Homo sapiens: one gene and its partners. The protein of the gene in region 1 interacts with the protein of each later gene in a pairwise test. Each region holds a gene or a part of one and is shown in the gene's direction. Other genes may lie near its edges. The genes, in order: KIF2A, FAM13C and LARP1B.

Evidence for each region.
Region 2: the proteins of KIF2A (region 1) and FAM13C interact in binary tests that used the Homo sapiens proteins (3 or more experiments, as listed by UniProt).
Region 3: the proteins of KIF2A (region 1) and LARP1B interact in binary tests that used the Homo sapiens proteins (3 or more experiments, as listed by UniProt).

What each region holds. Positions count from the first base shown.
Region 1 is NC_000005.10:62,309,205-62,316,328, forward strand, and holds part of KIF2A (kinesin-like protein KIF2A), read left to right. Parts: intron 1-7,124. UniProt on the Homo sapiens protein: Plus end-directed microtubule-dependent motor required for normal brain development. May regulate microtubule dynamics during axonal growth. Required for normal progression through mitosis. Required for normal congress of chromosomes at the metaphase plate.
Region 2 is NC_000010.11:59,359,502-59,367,464, reverse strand, and holds the start of FAM13C (protein FAM13C), read left to right. Parts: upstream 1-4,915; 5' UTR 4,916-5,004; coding exon 5,005-5,066; intron 5,067-5,081; exon of another isoform or gene 5,082-5,566; intron 5,567-6,354; exon of another isoform or gene 6,355-6,439; intron 6,440-7,963.
Region 3 is NC_000004.12:128,057,087-128,064,349, forward strand, and holds the start of LARP1B (la-related protein 1B), read left to right. Parts: upstream 1-4,225; 5' UTR 4,226-4,315; exon of another isoform or gene 4,316-4,607; coding exon of another isoform or gene 4,608-5,133; intron 5,134-7,263.

The sequences.
Region 1 (7,124 bases):
CTTCAGCCTATACCAGAAGTTCCCAGACATACAAGAGCTTTGTGTTCTTACATAAGTGCTACTAACCTAAAGCCACATTTCAAAAGCGGTTTGCCTATAAGAAATTAGGGAAGTCATCACAGTGTGTTATTATCCTAACCTATGGTCATGTATCTTTTTATGTGCCTCAGATGCATGATGGAGTTGGTGGAAGGCAGGAGATTAGTAGAGAACTTCGAAAGAACAGAAGGATCATTTGCATTGGACAGTAGTGTTTCACAATAGAAATTGATGTCTGGGAGAATGCCCCTCAAGCTTTCCCTTTTTCACTTTAAAGAAGCTTGTTTGCTTCCTCTCACTTCCATAACGTCTATATTGGATAAAACACTAGTGGTTATTATAACAAAAATAAACTTTGCAGTTGGAGGAACACTAATATCTGAGACAGTAGAAATGACATGAGTAAAGAAGGGCTGCTTCAGACCATTATTAACTGGTGACTTGATGTTTTTCTTTTGGCTTGCTGATGGCGATCCATGTCCCTATTTCAGACCACACTTTTCCCATCAGTGATACTCTTACACTAATAAACATATCCCAAGGGCAAACAGGTACACTAAAATGAGCTTATTCCTATCTTTCAAGACCATGATGAAAACTATCCTAATGAGTCTTCACTGATTACTAAAACCAGATGGCCAGTCAGCATCTGAATTCCTAAATCATTCTGTATTATTCATGAGACAGCATATTTCCTTAAGTATTAATGTTTGGGTCTGTAACTTTTTTTTTTCCACTCCTCTCAGCTCATACCTATGGGTACATATTCTTAATACTATGTTTTTAAACTGCATGGGGTAATGGGACTTACTAATAACTAATAATTCTTTTTTTTTTTTTTTTTGAGACAGAGTCTCGCTCTGTCAGTGGTGCGATCTCCGCTCACTACAACCTCTGCCTCCCAGGTTCAAGCGATTCTTATGCCTCAGCCTCCCAAGTAGCTGGGACTACAGGTGTGTGCCACCATGCCCGGCTAATTTTTGTATTTTTAGTAGTGACAGGTTTTTGCCACGTTGGCCAGGCTGGTCTCGAACTCCTGGCCTCAAGTGATCCACCCACCTCAGCCTCCCAAAGTACTGGGATTACAGGTGTGAACCACTGTGCCCAGCCTCTAATGACTCTTAAATTCCCTGAATGCATCTGTGTCATTACCCCCATTCCCACCCCCACTACTGGGATGTCTAGCAAAATTCCTTGCACATCGTTTTTGAATAAATCATACATTATTGGATTTTTTGTTTTCAAACATTTTAATTAATCATTAGAATGACATCTTAGCTGGAAGTGAAACCTTCCATCTGTGCTCCTCTGTACTGCTACCTCCCTACTCTGGCCCTCTACTTCCCGCTGGCCTGTTAGTCAGGAACTACAGCGTTAATTGAAATTGAGTGATCTGCTAAGGTTAATCTGACTTTTCTGGTTTTCTAAGGTTATCAGTGACAGGGGTTAGGCTTGGACTGCTAAGATTATTCTCTGCCACAGGAGATAACCTGGTATGAAATTGGACTGGTGTGTTTTCTTACATGTGTCTTCCTATTTTTCTGATTCAATTCCTTTCCCTTTTTAAAACCCACTGACTCTTAAAAAAACCTACAATCTTTCTGTCGTGTAGCTAGTTTGGTTTTTTTTTTCTTTTAGCTGTGCTGTTAACAGTTCTGTAGTAGCTGTGACTACCCTTTGGGGACTGGGGAAGAAATGGGAAATGTTGAACATTTGGAAGCTGCAGCTAATATGGGATTGTTCTTTGGGGGCGGGTCTCTTAGTCACAGTACTGTGACTGTATTGATACATGTAATCTGAAGAGAATCTTAGAATATTTCCACCAGAAAGGTTTTTGGAGATAAACTAGTTTTCATTTTTATAAATGTGGAAACTTGAGTCCCAGATCACCATAAGTGACTTATCTAGATTCATACAACTTGTCAATGGCAGCCAGGAACCTGACATGCTTAGCATAGAAATCAGACTATCAAGAACTATGACAGTAAAGGAGGAATTCTCTGTTATTTTGGAACCGTATACCGCTTTTTACAGCCCAGTCAAGATGTAGGAAATTGCTTCTTACTTCGGAGAAAGGCACCAGCGAGCAGTGTTACAGAGCTTGATTAGAATGATCCCTGGTAAGAAGTGCTATGTTACTACAAGTTCACCAAACCTAAAATTGTGGGAGGAAAGTATTCTTGTTTCTTAGTTAAGTATTGGTGTAAAGAGTTCCTTTTAACATCTGAAATCAAGAGGCAATTGAAGATTTCAAAGGACCCATCAGGAATTTTGGAGTTCAGGGCAGGCAAAGAAAATCTTTAGAAAAGATTTTAAATGGCCTAATTCTTTATATGCTTTGCCACATTTTTCTTCTGCTAGTTCATCTTTACACGTCACTATATAGGCTTCTGGAGAATAGCATGTGTAAATTTAAGTAATAAAGATGAACCATGTGGCAATACAGTTGTTCTTTAGGTACAATTATGTGATTGATTATGGGGGTGGGATGGAATAGGGGCATTTGTGACCTAATAGTTCCCTTTTCCCTGAGGACTAGGACGATAATGTTTCTGTATATGGATTTGTTAGGGCTTAATAGTTTTCCAAGTGCTTCAAGACATGTTAGCTAATTGGATCTTCACAGGAACTCTATGAGGTAAGCAGGATAGAAAGGTGGCAGATTATTGGTTTATAGGTGAAGAATCTGAGGTTGGATTATTTGCCAAGATCACATGGTTAATAAGGAGCATAGCCTGGGCCAAAGCCCGAATCCCTTCACTCCCAGCTCTCTAAGTGCTGCTGACAGATGTTTGCTGATTATGGTGTGAAGTTGTATACTTTAGTATTTCTTTCTGAGACATACAAACCCCTGTAGTAAAATTCTTTCCACTACTACCAAAGAAGCTCAAAAAACTTAAAATAGGCACTTATTGCTTCCAAAAGTACCACAGAAAGCCAGGAATCTGTATTCATTGCCTAGCCACTTGATTCTTATGACAAAGATTTTGAAACTCTGGGGAAAGGCTATGTGTCAACTTGTTTTATGTGTCATGATTGTTAAAATGCTAGAGAAAACAGCAAAGAGCCAGTTAAATCTGTGTCTGCTCAAATAAGACAAGGGGCAAGAGTGTGGAAAATCCAGAACAAGATTCCCTGAGAGATCATCTAGACCCCGTTCTTTCTAGTCAGAAGTATAGTTGTGATTAATATGACATTAATCTTTTGCAAAGTTTAATTCTTGGATTCAGCCATCTGCTTTAATTTTAACACATCTGTTTTGTAACCTAAAATAATTTTAAGGTGTTTGTTTATTTGTTTGTTTGTTTTGAGATTACGATTCTTAAGAATAGATACAAGTTTTAAACCTTGGATAAAACTAATTTTTATTCTTCTGGTTCAGTTGTAGAACAAATACAGGTTAAGTTGTCTTCCAGCTCTTTTAGATAAAGCAATATTAGTGGTTTTATAGTGCTAAGTGAAAAGAGACATTAGAATTTCACCATATTAAACTATCTCCCAAGAGTAATATGAGTGAGGGAAGTGTTCCTTTTAAAAGTCATGCTTCTAGGCTGAGCATGGTAGTTCATGCCTGTAATTCCAGCACTTTGGAGGCCAAAGCAGGAGAATTGCTTGAGCCTATGAGTTTGAGGTTATAGTGCACTATGATATCATTACCCACTACAATAAAACACGAAGTTCAGATGGTCATTCACTAGGGTGTGTGATATTTTGGAGTATAGACCTTAAGTGATTATGACATATCAAAATAATGTGGTCTTATGTTTCTTTTTTTTTTATTGCAGATTTCATTGAATATACTTCTATTAACAGCCTGCTATATATCAGGCATTCTGATAGGTGTTGGAGATACAAAAAATGAATAAAGCAAAAATAGTTCCTGCCCTCACAAACAAGTAAATAAGTGATTCATCTATAGTGTGATTAGTACTGATAGAAATATGCCATTTTGTGTGTACATTATTACTACCTTCCTTTTGAAGATTAGGCTTTTTTGTTAGACTCTTGAAGTTATGGACCTTTTGGATGGAAAATACATGTCATATATGCCATCTCTCCTCCTCTATGACCAATATCCGTGATCCCTCATAGCATTCCTGATGAATTTAGCCTCAGAGTTTTTTTTGAGAGGGAGTCTCGCTCTTGTTGCTCAGGCTGGAGTGCAGTGGCGTGATCTCGGCTCACTGCAACCTCTGCCTCTTGGGTTCAAGCGATTCTCCTGCCTCAGCCTCCTAAGTAGCTGGGATTATAGGCATGCGCCAACATGCCCGGCTAATTTTTTTGTATTTTTAGTAGAGATGGGGTTTCACCATGTTGGCCAGGCTGGTCTTGAACTCCTGAGCTCGTGGTCCACCCACCTCAGCCTCCCAAAATGCTGGGATTACAGGCTTGAGCCACTGCGCCCGGCCAGCCTCAGAGTTCTTAATACAGCATTATCAGCCCTAATAGCCCTAGTCTGCCAATTGAAATTGGCATTGTCATTATTAGCCTATTTCCTATACTCTAGTACCTATTTGAGTTATAAGTTTATAACTTTTAAATTGTTTTGGTATCAAAAGGAATTTTTTTTTAGGGTTTTGCTCTGTCACCCAGGCTGGAGTGCAGTGGCATGATCATAGCTCACTGCAGCCTCCAAGTCCTGGACTCAAGCAATCCTCTCACCTTAACTTCCCAAGTAGCTAGGACTACAGGTATGCACAACCATGCCTAGCTAATTTTTGTATTGTTTGTAGAGATGGGGTCTTGCTATGTTGACTAGGCTGGTCTTGAACTCCTGGCCTCAAGCAATTCTCCCTCTTTGGCCTCCCAAAGTACTGGGATTACAGGTGTGAGCCACCATACCTGGTCAAATTTATTCAATTTAAAGTTTTTGGCAGACCAGCACCTGACAGCAGGTTTCTCTCTAGATATCCTGGGTTTGGGTACTTGTAAATAGAGACTGGCTCGGTGTGGTGTCTCATGCCTGTAATCCCAGCACTTTGGGAGGCCTAGGCAGGAGGATTGCTTGAAGCCAGGAGTTGGATACCAGCCTGGGCAACATGATGAGGCTCTATTTCTACAAAAAATAAAATTAGCCAGGCCTGGTAGCATGTGACTGTAGCCCCAGCTACTCAGGAGGATGAAGTGGGAGGACTGGTTGAGCCCAGGAGTTGGAGGCTGCAGTGAGCTATGATCATGCCACTGCACTCCAGCCTGGGTGACAGAACAAGTCACTGTCTCAAAACAAACAAACAGAGACCAAGGAAGCAGAGCATGGGAAACAGCAGTGGATGCAGCTACTGGTGGTTATGTGTAATTTGGATATAAACTCCTTACACATTATGGCCCGGGAACTGTAAGAATCAGGTTCCTCCCTGGGCTATGTTTTATTTACTTTTGAAGACTTTTTCTCCAGGTTTTTGTAGGTTTTGGCATTAATTTTGACCACATTTTACCTAAAGGAAGGACAAGATCAGCAGGGAACAAACTTGTGGTAAAATTTGCTGAGTGTCTATACTGTGCTGAGAATGAACTGTTTTTTTTTTTTTTTTTTTTTTAAGATGGAGTCTCACTCTGTCACCCAGGCTGTAGTGCAGTGGCACGATCTTGGCTCGCTGCAACCTCCGCCTCCTGGGTTCAAGTGATTCTCCTGCCTCAGCCTCCCCAGTAGCTGAGATTATAGGCACGTGCCACCATCCCCAGCTAATTTTTGTATTTTTAGTAGAGACAGGGTTTCACCATGTTGGCCAGGCTGGTCTTAAACTCCTGACCTCAAGTGATCCACCTGCCTCAGCCTCCCAAAGTGTTGGGATTATAGGTGTGAGCCACTACACCCGGCCTTATGCCCGCATTTTGACCGCAACCCATCACAGGGTCGTGTGTGGAATTTTCCACTATGGTGTCATGTTGGTGCTCAAAAAGTTTCAGATTTTGGAGCATTTTGGATTAAAGAATGCTCAGCCTGTGGTGGTTTATAACTCTGGCTGCTCAATAGATCACCTGTGGGGCTGTGGAAAAAAACAGACCAAAAAAAAAAAAAAAAAAAAAAGCAACCCACCACAGCCAATATCTGGTTCCTTTGCCTAGAGATTCTGTCTGGTATGTAGTCTAGGTATCAGTATTTTACTTTAAGGCACCTAACATACTGATGAAGCTTAACTTGTCACACATTAGTGATTCCAGGGTATAGCCAGGGTTGTGATCCATTATTTTAGTAAAAGTAGTATCTCCTAACAGAGTATCTGACAAGACTTCTTGGAGAGTGAAGTTTAAATGGTGAGAGGAAGATGACCAGTCGGTTGCCCTGAGGGCAAGGAGGCATTCTAGCCATGTAGGCAGCATGGAAGAAGTCCCTGACTGGAAACAAAGCTGTCAGGTGAAGGGCATTTAAAACAGGCAGAGGGAGGATGATGAAGAAGATAAGGGAGGAGGGGTAATCTGGGGCACCTTATTAAAGACCTGGAAACAGAGGTAAGGTAAGGATCTTGGAATTAATTTCTAGGACACTTGGAAACTACTATAGGACTTAATCTCCTAAGAGCAGTAATAGGAGTTAGTGATTAGTGATAGATTAGAGGGAGCATAGTACTGAAAATGAGAGGTAGCATGGATAAGATTGCATCAGTCTAGGAGGGTGAGCAATGATTAAGGAACAGATGATATGCAGAACACACAGCAAGAAGAATTGATGTTATATTGCAATATATCCCTTGTGCTGAATAAAGGGCAGATGAGTTGAAAGGAAAGGACTTAACATTTGCAAAGTCTGAGTATAGCTTTTAAATCTCTTCAGTTTTATTTAATCAGGCTAACGCTGTTCAAGAATACAGTGTAGAGGACTGTAGAGCCTATCAAGGTAATATCAAAGAGAGCATCCAACTCAGGCTGCATATAGTTTTTGCCACTAATATCCTAAAAGTAATTGAGTTTAAGGTATAAATCACTTCCATTACATGTTTACCTGCAATGGGAATTTGCTTAAGCTATAACTAAGTACTTTGCCTTCTTAGTACTGAGCTGTAGTGTGTTAGCCAGGACCCTCTCAGAATTCTTGGAACGGAATGAGAAGGAAAAGCAGTACACAAAGAATATGACGTCATCTCTTT
Region 2 (7,963 bases), on another chromosome or scaffold:
GTTATAATAACAGGAGAGAGGCCAGTGTTTTGGAGATAAGTTCAGTTGTCTCCAGGGCCAGAGCACATAGGGCCTGAGAGGCCATGGTAAATGGTAAAGAAATTATAGAAATATTACTATTTTATATTCTGGGTATAATTCAAATAGTGAACCAATTCTTAAAAATCATAGAGACTAAATTTTACCTATTGGAGGGGTTATACATATTTTTCTCAAAAACATTAATAGCTCAAAGTGATAATCTTCACATCACATTTGATACTCATTACATTATTATAAAAAGGGAAATTACAAAATTAATTAAGGGCTCCATAAATTTTTCCAAGGGCCACTCTTAATCCTTTGATAATTGATTAATTCCTTTTGGAATTGGCATCTCAGCATTCTTGTCAATTTTTATTCTTTGGTTGTTACTGCCAATACCTCACTTGTCACTGGTTTTTAATGTGATTCAAGCTGTTCTGCAATATCACTTCCACTGGCTTCAAGAAATCCTGACTCTTTTGTAAAAAATTGAAATTTCACTTATCAATCAATTTACATTGCATCTGCATTTTATTGTCAGATAAATCAGAGAGAGATTGCCAAAGATGGACTTGATGTACACTAGCATTAATTGGGGAGGGTTGTTTGGATGAAGACCAATATCACAAACAGTCTGTCGCTAGTACATGTTTTTGGTATCACAGCTTTGCTTCCCTGGGCACCTTTGAATCTTCAGGAGCTCAGTTACTGACCACTCAGATAATAAGGACTCTTGATATGCTGTCCTCATTGGAGCTGGTGAAGAAATAGATTAGGGGACAGGGATGGGAAGAAGTTTTTTTTTTTTTCTTTTTTTGTGGAAAAAAAATTATCTCTTCAGGCAAGAGTCCTCTCTTTCACAAGGAAGCCTGGTCATTCCCAAGGGTACTGACAGGAAGCTACAAGTCACTCTGTCCAGGCCAATAGAGCAGGCCTCTGTTGATTTCCTGGCATTGTAAAGATTCTGGCTTCTTGCCCCAGCATCTTGCAGAAAGTGATTTCTCAGAATTGTCTGTTCCTCCAGGGATGCGCAAGTATTTTAAATTGAAGAGTTGTAAACTGAGCACAAAGCCAATCTGGATGAAACCCATTTCATCCGGAGCAGCCCATCCGCATTTAGTAAAGTTTTAAATTTTATTGTTCTTAAAAAAAAAAAAAGCTGTGTAAACACTGCGCCATCATAGGAAGTAGAAAGAAAATATCATCTGTAAGCCTCCTCTTCAAGCACAGTGGCATTGTTCATCTTGTCTCAAGCTTTGTTTATATATTCTTATTTATTATAATAATACTAATGAAAATAAGGATAATTAGCAGCATTTATTTACTATTTTTTAAATTTGTCAGGCATGTCATTTAATTTAATCTTCATAAGAACCCATAAAATAGGTCATTATTATCTTTATTTTACAGATGAGAAAATTGAGGCAAAAGAGGTTGTTCATGTTTAAACTATTAGTAAGCGGTGGGTCTTGAGTCTTGGCAAATCTGGAAATTTCTTTCTTGACCTCTACACTGTTGCTTTATATTTTGCATATAGTCAAGTCAATACATTAGAATTAACAATTTTACAATTAAACTAAACTATTGGTATTAGATCTGATATTCAGATATTGGTTTTAGAGCACTGATAGAAAAATGAGCATTTAAAATTGAGCACTTTTAACATGTTAAGTGAATTAACCATATTCAAATCTAGCATCTTCATTTTTCCTTTATTTTACTTATATTGTATACAATAGAATTGTACATATAATATACATTATGTATTTTACATATATAAATATGCAATATATTTATATTAAAAATGTTATGATGTCAGGGACTGTGTCTGTCTTATTCATAACTATGGGATAGTGATAAGCATGTAGAATCATTTGTTCATTCATTCGTTTAATAAATATACCACTTAATTCCCTTTGCATTTTTTTCCTGATATATTCAGGAGTTATTTTCTCAAAATTCCTAGTTATACATGATGCTAATTGATGATATATTTAACAAAAAATTATTTTGGTCTTCAATGAATTTGAGGAACACTGTTAAAAACAGATGAAAAACTTCTCTTTGCTACCTAATGTGCATTGTGAATTTATAATATGCATCTTTTCCAAAACTTATTTTTGACCATGTAACTTTTAAAACATTTTCCTGGATTTTCTGGAGACTAGAATTTCACTGCCACTTGGGAAATACTGGCCTAGAACTTACTTCTTCATAAACTCAATATTAATTTTTCTGCTCCCCTTTTCAAACCCTCCTGGAATTGTTCTTTAGTAAAGCTGAGGGTCTCCAAAATAATCATATGTTGTACGATATTCATCAGTATTGTCCTATTCCAAGTTGAACAGTACAAAACATCATAAAAGCCAATTAAAAAGCCACTTACAAAGACAATTTCTAAACCTGATTTAAGATGAAAACAAATGTCATAAGAATTAATTGAGAAGTAAAAATTAAAATGGTTGATTTTGTTATATACTGCCAAATAATGTTTTTTCAGGGATGTTTTGGTTTTTATCCATAATCAACTGTATCAACCAGTTGTTTTCATTGTATGTGGGTACTGCCTAAAACCTAATTTTGGTCCTTCCTATTCACGAGTTGCTGAGAATTTTTATTTCTTTTCCTTGGACATTATTGAATACTTGCATTTATTGGGTACATTTGTTATTTCATTTTATTTTCAAAGGGCCCAATTCATTTCATAGAATGAAAAAAAAACAGTATTTGGCAGTATATAAGAAAATCAACCATTTAATTAAGGTTGTTCTTAATTAAATGTCCAAGTCCTATTTCAAATTAAAAGCATTGAACATTTCCATTACAAGTGGATCACTGGGAGTATTTATAGGAGAAAAGTGTGATCTTTCTCCACACTGGAACACTTGGAATAAACACCATAGTCAATGAGTACAAGGGGTTTCTGGAAATTAACAACCATATGGGAAATTAACAACCATGTAATCTATGAAACCATAAGTCAGTCAGAAGGCTGAATATAGACTTACCTTCATCAGTCTGAATAAACAAAGAACAGATCTCACTTTGAAATGGCTAAATAATGAATACAGTGAAGCAGCGATGTCTCTTACTCCTGAACCTAGCTCAAATGAAATAGTAGGTGGCTTCGGAACAAATATGTACTGTATAGTTATACATACAAAGGATTAATATTCCTGAACTTATTTTAGTCCATAGAATTCAGTCTAAGACCATATTAGGTTTTTATTTAGCTGATTTTAAAAATATTTGGAGAGAGGAAAGCAAAATTGCAAAGAACCTTAATGAAACCTGTTTTTCTTTGAAAACTCAATTTTTATTTTTCAAGGTATAAATTTAAAAAGTTAAAATACAACTCTCATACAAACATAGGCAGGCAGCAGAGATCTATTCACTTATTAATGGGGAAAACTGTAAGATGATGAAGCTGGTTCCAAAAGCATTTTGAGGATCTGTGGATTTACAGGTATTTAGAAAGAAAGTTTGGTTAGATGCAAAATGATTATTTGGTTAGATGCAAAATTGGTTATCTTCCTATATTGCAATAAAATCATAAACGCTGCGATTATCTTTTTCTCTGAACAGGCTGAATAAAATGTGCAAGTGACCACAGAACTTCACTGTGGCTGGAATCTAATCAATAGTGAAGAGCAAAGCCAAACACAACTGGAGAATTAACTGGCCCCTGGGTGGACTTGTTAACCGATGTCTCAGTTTGACATTGAAAGGTCATGCTCTTCCCCATTATTTCCAAGTTTTGGTAAAGTTTTTAATTGCCCAATTAGAAAAATTATGAGTTTTTTGTTGTTATGTTAACTCATTAACTTACATAGGTTTGGACTAAAAACCACTATCCTAGCTGCTTCTGGGAGTAGAAAGATTAAAAAGGGGGATGGGAATCTTATTTCAAAATTCAAATAAAATAATTCAAATTCAAATAAGAATCTTTAATAGATGCTACATCCCATATCCAGGTCAACATGGCAGGAGAAATGAACAATACAAAGAGGGCAGAACAAATATCCCCAAGGGAAAGAAGCCAGTGGGGGGACTGACAGTCTTTCCTTTCCCTAACAAGGCTGCCTTTATTCAAAGGGATAGCGTTTGCGGATTCCGTCTCTCCATCCTTTGTAAAGGTGCTAGCTAGGGAGCTGAGCTCAAGCGGGCTGCTCTAGGCATAGCAAGCCCCACCCCTTGCACGGTGTCCTAATCACCAGCTAACCCCTGGAATAAATTCTCCACTCGCCCTGCGTGGGTTCATTCACAGCTCTGTAGTCCGGGGCTGGGCGCTTCCTCTCTGGGACTGAAATAAGAGCGCTCTAGACAGATCAGGTGTGATGCAGCCAGCCCTGCTTTAGAGCCTATTCTTTTTCCTAGGCAACAAAAAACACACACACAAAATAAAACACCAAACAGCAGCAATATCCCCCTCCCCCTTCTTGTTCTCTCCTGACTTTTTCTGAACGATGGATGAATCTCTGCGAGCCTCCATCCCTGGGGGTGGGGTGGGAGTGTGGGGGGTTGGGGTGAGCTCTGTAAAATTGGTAGGAGACATGTGGAAGAAAGCAAGTCTCCCGGGTATTTCAGCACTTCGGCAGAAACACTGGGGCATTCTCATTGCCAGCCTCGGGGGGTGGCTGGCACAAAGAGCCCAAGATTAAACGCGGCGCCTGGGCTGGCGAGGTCGGGGTCGTGTGGTAACTCTCCAGGTGCTCCTCGCTGGATCCCGGGGTCCCAGCCCCGCCGCCGCGCCCCGCCCAGCTCTGTCCCCGCAGCCTCGCGGGCTGCCGGGCTTTGTGGTTCGCCCGTGCCGCTGGGCCCCTGCTGGGGGTGTCGTTACGAGCATGTGCAGACAGCAGCCCAAGGTAGAGCGAGCGTGCCGGGCGAGCCCGGAGACTTGCCTTGCAATGCCATGTTTGTGTATGTGCTCTAACTCCCGGAGAGCAATCAGGGAGACGGCTCCCCGGCCAGACTTGGCTGATGTTTTCTTGTTTCTGTTTCAGCCTTCAGGATAATTCCTTCAGCAGCACCACTGTAACAGAGTAAGTGATTCTTACCATTAAAATTAGACTTGCATGCCTTTCTCTGGAAGCAACTATCGTGAAGGTATCCTCCACCGTTCCCAGCCGCTGTTCGTTTTAGATGCATTGTCTCCCGGAATCTGGGGCTGTGAAGACCGTGAGACGTGCTGACTGGTGGGGCCCAGAAATCTTTACAGGTTGAAACCAGCATTTTAGCAGCTGCGGGAGAGAAATTAAAACCAGCTGATTGCTTGCAGGAGCTCAGTGCTCCAAGATATGTGTTCTTGGAGCTCAGATTTTTAAAAATCCATTTGATGTGTTAGGAAGCTTTGTTGTATTTTGCCAACATTGGTGTCAGTTTTCATGGAGTGCACACTATATACATTTACAGCAATAGAAGATAGATGTGAAATGAGCTGAATTCCAGCATGTGGTAAACAGGCTAAACTTATCTTGGCCCTCTCTTGTCTACAGATTTTTAAGGCATATCAGAGTAAACTTTTTGTGCATGCCCTTTGTCATGTTTGTCTTCTGACTACAGAGATGTGACTATGGGACGAATGAGTCACCTAGTCCTATGGTTAAAGCTGTTGATTAGGGCAACTAACACCCTTCAAACATGGAATGAAGGAGTGTGAATGAAGGAGCGTACCAGCAAGCACAGTATTTTTTTAAAGATATTTATATGCTATAGTTTTAATTTTTGACATCCCTTCCTTAATGTTTTCCTAATATTATACTATATTTGTTAAAAATTAACAGGTAGTGTATTTTGCTAATACTGTATGTAATTTATATATACATATATATATATGAATATGTACTTCATCTAGCATTCTTTCTCTAGGCTAATTCATGATGTTTACTTCTGGGACCTTTGTAGAAGCCACTCTAAACATCTTTTCAGGAAAAAGGCATGTGTAAAGTTGTATCCTCAACTACATTTAAAAAATGTTATGAGTTTGATGTAGAAGGCTTAACTAACTGGGGAGCTGTTTGCTAAAATTCCCTAAAAAGCAAATAAATGTTTTGCTTTTGGCTTCCAAGTCCTGCCACTATCACAATGACTTGGTGAGGGAGGGATAAGGTTTACAGTGCTTCCTAGGCCCTCTTGTTTTCCACATTCTTTTGTTTCTCTCTTTTGCTGTGCTGCTCCTTTAGTGTCCAGTTTTGAGCAGACTTAAGTGGAGTCACTTAAAAAAAAAAACAGGATTGACTTTAGAAGAAGCAATGTAAAATACTCATTTGGACCCACATTCTGTTTATAAGATTGCTTGGTAACCTGTGCTGCAATGTTGCTTTTCTAAAGGCCTGAGAGAAGGGGAGAGAGGTGTGCCAAAGTGTGCATCTGCAGGCCGAAGATGAGGCCTGGACTTCCTGCTCCAGGTGCACAGGTACTGCTCTCCTCCCTTTGCTGTGCTTAAAGTACTAAGTGCTTTCTGGCCCCGATTCTCAGGAGCCTGGTGTGGCCAAATCCTCGGTCAGTCACAGGCACGGCAGGTTCAAAATGGAGACACTTAGCTCCAGATTTCACGTGGACTTTTTTTTTTTTTTTTTTTTTTTTTTCTGTAGAGGTTTCGTGGTTAAATGCTGGGGAGAGCCTGGTGCCTTGTCTTTGGACACTCCCCAAGGAGTTCTGATTGCATAAGATCATGTTTTTACTTTCAGAGGAGTGACAGTGATTTATTTTAAAAGGCACTGAGAGATAATTGGTATGCCATTTGGCTAATATAAAAATCTAAGGAGCCTATTGAGAACATACCAAAAGCTTCATAGGTATAACACATCATTGACTAGGACTGTTTAAAACTAGTCATTGCCACAATAACATTTTCCCCTCACCTCAGTAATATGACCCATATCCCGTGCTTCTCTGGGCATGACCCCATAGCCCTCAGGACCAAGGTGCTATATCCTGAGACACAGACATAGCAGGTTCTCAGGAAATGTTTGGGTGTGGTCTTGGCCTACACGGAGGAGGGACTTTTCTCCCCTCTATGTTCTGGATACAAGAAGAGCTCCTCTGCCTCCTGTCCCCACCCCATTCCTACATCCTTCTACTCACACCCACTTATTTTCTTCGATGCCTGAAATTTCACCTAGAGATGATTTCTTTGGATGAAGGCCTCTGGTAGTGACCCTTATTAAATTGGAAATTAAAAAGTTTGTGCCCTTGGGAAGTGGATTCAAATTGTCATGAATACTTTAATATGAATTATTTTACCTAACCTATTTTCTAACCTGTTATGGTTATGGTTATGCTTGGCCAGCTGGGAGTCCTAGAAGAGTCAAGGGGAAAGGGAAATTGGGAGGGACTCAAGGACAGATTTTATTTTCTTCTTGGTTTTTCCCAGCCCTGGCACTATCTATGCAGCTCTAGACAAATTCAATTTCTTTTTCCACCCCAATGTTTTCATCACAATGGCCTTGGCCTTTTCTTCCCTATCTGTGGCACCTTTTCATCTAATATTTTTCCATGGTCAATCGTGACATTGCCCCAGCTAACTTGCTATTTTAAATGAAGCCTGCAATAATTCTGATTAGTTATCATTCAAACCAGTGGTTCTCAAAGCTAACTGATCATCAATATCAACTGGGGAAGGGGACTGGAGCTTGTGAAAATTGCAGTCTCCCAGGTTTTATCTCAAAGTGGGAACCCAGAATGGGTGATTGTATTGGTGTCAGGACAGTGCTGTTTTGGGGTTTGGAAACCTTTAGGTCAGTGTTAAATGTTTAGAAACATAGTAGTTCTATAGGTAGGCAGTCTGTTTTAAAAATCCACATTCCTGGGCTCTGCCCTCAGAGAGTTGATGTAGTGGGGCTGGAGACTTCTGTTTTGACCAGGTACTTCAGGTAGTGCTAATGCAAGGGGCCACATTTTGAGAAAGCCCACAGGAGGCTGTACCTCTGCAACTTTG
Region 3 (7,263 bases), on another chromosome or scaffold:
ACCTAGGCTGGAGTGCAGTGGGGTGATCTTGGCTCACTGCAACCTCCGCCTCATGGGTTCAAGCAATTCTCCTGCCTCAGCATTCCCAGTAGCTGGGATTACAGGCACCACCACCACACCCGGCTAATTTTTGTATTTTTAGTAGAGACGGGGTTTCACCATGTTGGCCAGGCTGGTCTCAAACTCCTGACCTCAAGTGATCCGCCCGCCTTGGTCTCCCAAAGCACTGGGATTACAGGCTTGAGCCACCACGCCTGGCTGTTTTCTTTTTCTTTTTCTTTTTTTTTTTTTTTTTGAGACAGGGTCTCGCTTGAACCCGGGAGGCGGAGGTTGCAGTGAGCTGAGACGGCGTCACTGCACTACGGTCTGGGCGATGCAGCGAGACTGTCTCAAAAAAAAAAAAAATTAAATTAAATTAAAAAGTTAAATGGAACTGAATAGATCATGTAAGAATGTCTTCATAGCCCAGCGCAGTGGCTCACGCTGTAATCCCAGCACTTTGGGAGGCCGAGGCGGATGGATCACCTGAGGTCATGAGTTCGAAACCAGCCTGGCCAAAATGGTGAAACCCCCATCTCTACTAAAAATACAAAAATTAGCTGGGCGTGGTGGCGGGCGCCTGTAGTCCCAGGTACTCAGGAGGCTGAGGCAGGAGAATGGCGTGAACCCGGGAGGCGGAGCTTGAAGTGAGCTGAGTTCGGGCCACTGCACTCCAGCCTGGGTGACAGAGCAAGACAGAGGCGGTGGCTCTCACCTGTAATCCCAGCACCTTGGGAGGCTGAGGCTGGCAGGTCACCTGAGGTCAGGAGTTCAAGACCAGGCTGGTAAACATGGTGAAACCCCGTCTCTATTAAAAACACAAAAATTAGGGACAGGCGCGGTGGCTCACGCCTGTAATCCCAGCACTTTGGGAGGCTGAGGAGGGTGGATCACTTGAGGTGAGGAGTTCAAGACCAGCCTGGTCAATATGGTGAAACCCTGTCTCTACTAAAAATACAAAAAATTAGCTGGGCATGGTGGTGCATGCCTGTAGTCCCAGCTACTAGGGAGGCTGAGGCAGGAGAATTGCTTGAACCTGGGAGGTGGAGCTTGCAGTGAGCTAAGATCCTGCCACCGCACTCCAGCCTGGGCAACAGAGTGAGACTACATCTCAAAAAAAGAAAAATTAGTCAGGCATGGTGGCACATGCCAGGAGAATCGCTTGAACCCAGGAGGAAGAGGCTGTAGTGAGCCAAAATCGTACCACTGCACTCCAGCCTAGGCAACAGAGTGAGGCAACAGAAAGAGGCCTCTTTCAACAGGCCAGGCGCGGTGGCTCACGCCTGTAATTCCAGCACTTTGGGAGGCCAAGCGGGGGCAGATCACCTGAGCTCAGGAGGTCGACACCAGCCTGGGCAACAAGGTGAAACTCCGTCTCTACTGAAAATACAAAAACTTAGCTGGGCATGGCAGCGCATGCCTGTAGTCCCAGCTACTCGGGAGGCTGAGGCAGGAGAATCTCTTGAACCTGGGAGGCAGAGGTTGCAGTTAGCCGAAATCATGCCACTGCACTCTAGCCTGGACTCCAGCTCAAAAAAAAAAAAAAAAAAACCAACAAAGAAACAAAAAAAGAAAGATATTTATGGCTGGGTGTGTGGCTCACGCCTGTAATCCCAGCACTTTGGGAGGCCGAGGTGAGTGGATCACTTGAGGTCAGGAGTTTGAGAGCAGCCTGGCCAAGATGGTGAAAACCCCTTCTCTACTAAAAATTCAAAAATTAGCTGGGTGTGGTGGCAGGCACCTGTAATCGCAGCACGACACCACACCCAGCTAAATTTTTGTATTTTTAGTAGAGACGGGGTTTCACTGTGTTGGCCAGGCTAGTCTGGAACTCCTGACCTCGTGATCCGCCAGCCTTGGCCTCCCAAAGTGCTGGGATTACAGGCGTGAGCCACCTCGCCTGGCTGATGGCAGTGTTTTGAACCAAATAATTTGTTCTTCCAGACCAGGTGAACACCCTACCCAAGGGCAGATAATCCACAGATTGGCTAATGAATTGTATAATCTGGCTGGAAAAAATAAGTAGGGTCAAGCAGTCTTTTATCCTTAATTTTGAACTATGAAGCAGAGGAAGAGTCTGGCACGTAGCTGCAGAGGCAGAATGAAGTAACAAGATAGAGGTTAATTACAGCAAATTGGGTCAGTCAGATGAAACTAAAATCAGACGGAACGCTCAAATTTTGGAATTTTAAGTTTATTATTAAAAGGACACTTTACAGAGGTGTGAGGCTAGGCGTGGTGGCTCACGCCTGTAATCCCAGCACTTTGAGAGGCCAAGGTGGGGGGATGACTTGAGGCCAGGAGTTCGAGACCAGCCTGGCCAACATGGTGAAACACCGTCTCTACCAAAAATACAAAAATTAGCCGGGTGTGGTGGTGGGCGCCTGTAATCTCAGCTACTCGGGAGGCTGAGGCATGAGAATCGCTTGAACCCGGGAGGCAGAGGTTGCAGTGAGCCGCGATCGCGCCACTGCACTCTAGCTTGGGCGACAGAGAGAGACTACCTCTTAAAAAAAAAAAAATGCCGGGCGCGGTGGCTCATGCCTGTAATCCCAGCACTTTGGGAAGCCGAGGCGGGTGGATCATTTGAGGTCAGGAGTTCAAGACCAGCCTGGCCAACCTGATGAAACCCCGTCTCTACTAAAAATACAAAAATTAGCCGGGTGGTAGTGGCGCGCCTGTAATCCCAGCTACTCAGGAAGCTAAGGCAGGAGCATCTCTTGAGCCTGGGAGGCAGAGGTTGCAGTTAGCCGAGATCACGCCACTGTACTCCAGCCTGGGCAATAGAGTGAGACTCTGTCTCAAACCACCACCACCACCACCATCACCACCACCAATAAAAAATACAAAGCGCCACTAATAACAGAGCTAGTAAAGATGGATGGGAATATAGGTGGAAGTACAATCCCCTTTTAATTGCAACAAGGTTCGCCAGGTTGCTTAGGGTTGGGCAAACTGGAGATCACTGACACGGAAAACAAGAAAACCCTTATTGTTTATAGCTGTTATGTATGAATAGGTTATTAGCCTTAGGAAAATTATTTGTGCCGAATACGGCTTTTGAGTAAGCAAAAAATATTAACGTCAAGTTGAATGTAATTGAAGCGACTTATTGGGCGTGGGGTGGGGGGTGGGGGTTGAAAGCCCAAACATAAGGCGAGCACAGATAATTTATTTAACAAGGCTATGGGGTTGGTGGGGGGCTCGGAAAAAAATCAGCGGCGGAACCTGCTCTCAGCCACCTTGCACCAGGACACAAACACTGACTCAAAAATGAAACGAGTATCATCTCTAAGTGAATGTGAGTGCCAAGTAGAAAGCTCGTATCCGATTTATTATCAAAACGTCTTTGTACCATTTTAACATCCATTCCAGGAAGAAAAAACCTATTGGGAATATGGTTAATTTGTAATTAAGTGCTATTTACCCAAATTAAAGAAACAGGTAACAAAAAATTTTAAAAGCCGGCGAAATACTATTTAATTTACTCAGGAACGCTTTAGAACTCTTTTAGTTGGTGGGTGGGAATGCGGGCGGGGAAGCGCACTAAGCCGAACGCTGGGGCAAAGGTTTCCTAAACAGTTACCGAGAGGTAACTCCCCCTTCATCTGGGACGTGGCTCAAGATTACAGGTGATCGCGGTGCCCCGAGGCGCCAGGAGGCAACTTTCACCTGGGGGAGGCGCCGGGCGCCAGCGGGCCAAGCGGCCGGGCCGCGGAGCCCACTTCACTTGGGAGCTGCCCCAGGCCGGGGGTCGACACCGCGTCCCCTCCCTTAGCCTAGCTGCGACCCAGCTTTAGGGCCTAAGGGCAAATCGAGCGCTCGGTCCTCCCAGCGCCATGTGCGCGGCCCGCCCAGGCCCTTGGCCGCCGTCGCCGCGGGGGCAGGCCGCGAGCCAGCCGCGAGCCACAGAGGCCTGGTGCGCGCTCCGCCCCTGAGCCTGCAGTCGGGGCGGCCTCAGCCAGTGAGCCGGGAGTCGTCCCCTTCGTCCTCCCTCGCACTCGGAGGGCAGCTGGGGCGGGGCAGACCCTCGGGCCGGGCGGCACCCGGGCGGGCGAATCCGTCAGCTCCCGCGGGAGGCCCGGCGAGAGAAGGACCCGGTGAGTAGCCACGTCACGCTCCTCAGGGAGGCCCCGCCCCGTGCTCTCGGGCCGCCCCTCTTCGCCGTCTCCACGCCTCCGCGGGCAGTTACCAGCTTTGGCTGCTCGCGCCTCCCCAACTCGGGTAAAGCTCCTCGGCCTCGGCGTGCTGCGCCTCCGCGGCTGCCCTGCGCCAGGTGAGGGCTCGCGGCTCCCGGCTGCGGCTCCCGGCGCGTGGTGGCGGGCTCGGGGCGTGCGTCGCGGAGAGGACGGGGCCGGCGGGCGGTTGGCGCTCCGTTCGGTGCGGGGAGGGGCGTCACGCCGGGCGCTGCGCGGCCTCGGCGGGCGGCGGCAGCGGCGGCCACGGCCGCCGGGCTCTCGGGTTGTCTGTCCCCAGTTGGAGCCGGCCGGTGTCCCGGCGGAGAGACGGGCAGTCGGGTTCCCTGGCCTCGGGGCCACCCCGGCTGGGGCGGCTGGGGCAGAGGGACGATGTCTACTCGCGCCCCGATGCCCGCCGCCCATTCTCGGGAGGATCCGCCCGCGGTGACTGCTGAGAGGGAGTCGCTGTTGGCCGCGGCGAACCGGCCGGCCGAGCAGCCGCCCCCGCCCGAATGTGAGGGCAAAGAGGCGGCGAGGGAGGAGAGGGCCGCGGCCGCCACTAGCGCTGGGGCGCGGGGAGAGCCGTCGCCGGCGCTGGTGCTGGGACGCAGCGTGCCCCAGGCGGCTGTCCCCGTGAGGCCCCTGGCGCTGCACCTGGCGCACAAGGCGCGTGGGCCCGGGGGCCCTTTCGGCGGGGAGCCGCCACCGCCACCGCCGCCGCCGTCGCCGTTGCCGCCGTTGCTGCGGGATCCGCCGGCCGAGGACGCCCGGGAAGAGGTGGCAGCTGGCCCTGCGGAAAAGCGGCAGCCGCCGCTGCTGCCGCCTAAGGGAAATCCCTGGACCAAAAAGCCTCCCCAGCACCTGTCCCCAGACACGACAGGTCCGCCACCGCCCCCGCTGGAAACCCTGGAGGCAGGTCTGTGGTTGCTCTGCGTTGGGCACTGGCAGGGTGCGGGCAGGGGCGACTTGCGGGACTTGCCGGCGCGTGGCGGCGGTAGCGGGCACCAGGCCCGGGTAACGGCAGGCCTCCCCTCCCTGTCAGTCGGAGGTAATTTGTTCCAAGGTGTCATTCACTCTGCCTATTTACAGACATGGGCATCTGGGAAGGGAGCGGCAGGAAGAGGTGGGACCTCAGGTTCTCCTTGCCTGATGGGGGCACGGAGGTGGTAGCTTGGCGGCGCATCCCTGCTGGCGCGGTTGCGATTGTGTTTTGTCCCCAGTGTTAGTGACTTGGGAAAGTAGCTAACTTTAGATACTGCAGTGCTTCGTATGGGAAAGTTTTGGTAGACTTTTTTTTTTTTTTTTTTACATAAAAGGATTGAAGCAAGTCAGAGCAAGGGGATTTATTCGTAAGTGGAAGCGCGATTGTAGTCTTTTGTGAAATAAGATGAAAAAAGGTTTTCAAAACACTGCTGAGCAGTCATATTAAAAATGAGACTTTAAATGTGGTTTTTAAAGTGCTTTATGGGGGGAGGGGGGAGGGATAGCATTAGGAGATATACCTAATGTTAAATGACGAGTTGATGGGTGCAGCACACCAACATGGCTGCACATGTATACATGTGTAACCTGCACGTTGTGCACATGTACCCTAAAACTTTAAGTATAATTAAAAAAAATAAAGTGCTTTAAGTTATAAGTGTGCTGGAAAATAATTGAAATAGGATAGTTGACATGCGAGCGTGGATTGCACGTTAGGTAAATGGTTTTCTAACATTGTCAGCTCTCCTTCCCTTTAGAGGAGATAAGATTATGCCACTATATTTGAATGCTGACCAATGCTGTATGGCCGTCGGTGCTTTATTTTGATTGTAGTAACTGCAACTTAAGAAAGTAAAAATGGGCCGGCGCGGTGGCTCACGCCTGTAATCCCAGCACTTTGGGAGGCCGAGGCGGGCGGATCACCTGAGGTGAGGAGTTCGAGACCAGGCTGGCCAATATGGCGAAACCCCGTCTCTACTAGAAATACGATCATTAGCCAGGCGTGGTGGCGGGCGCCTGTAATCTCACCTACTTGAGAGGCTGAGGCAGGGAGAATCGCTTGAACCCGGGAGGTGGAGGTTGCAGTGAGCCGAGATCGCGCCACTGCACTCCAGCCTGGTCGGCAGAGTGAGACCCACTCTCAAAAAAAAAAAAAAAAAAAAAAAAAAAAAAGTTAAAATGGAAATAAAAACCATGACAAAAAGCAGTATCTGGCCGGGCGCGGTGGCTCACGCCTGTAATCCCAGCACTTTGGGAGGCCGAGGCAGGTGGATCACCTGAGGTCAGGAGTTCAAGACCATCCTGACTAACATGGAGAAACCTTGTCTGTACTATAAATACAAAATTAACCTGGCGTGGTGGCGCATGCCTGTAATCCCGGCTACTGGGGAGGCTGAGGCAGGAGAATCGCTTGAACCCGGGAGGCAGAGGTTGCAGTGAGCCGAGATCGCGCCACTGCACTCCAGCCTGGGCAACAGGAGCGAAACTCCGTCTCAAAAAAAAACACAAAAAAACAAAACCGTATCTTTCTAAATTAAGTTGTAAATGACTTGAACTTTTTATATGCAAATGACAGCTGTTTACTTGCAAGTCTTCATTTTTATTTAAAATTAAAGGTTAGCAGCAGAACAAGAAATATTTGAGCGTGTTTACTGGCTTGTGAGGATCAAATGCGATGAAGAGGTGGTATAAATGTAAGGCGATTGGCTGTGCGCGGTGGCACACGCCTGTAATCCCAGCACTTTGGGAGGCCGAGGCGGGTGGATCACCTGAGGTCAGGAGTTCGAGATCAGCCTGGCCAACATGGCGAAACCCCGTCTCTACTAAAAATACAAAAATTAGCCGGATATGGTGGTGCGTGCCTGTAATACCAGCTACTCAGGAGGTTGAGGCAGGAGAATCGCTTGAACCCGGGAGACGGAGGTTGCAGTGAGCCAAGACTGAGCCACTGTATTCCAGCCTGGGTGACAGAGCAAGACTCAGTCTCAAAAAAAAAAAAAAAAAAAGTACGGTGATTGTTACAAGCACCCATTATGTTATGTTAACATTTCTTCAGAGGAACTCT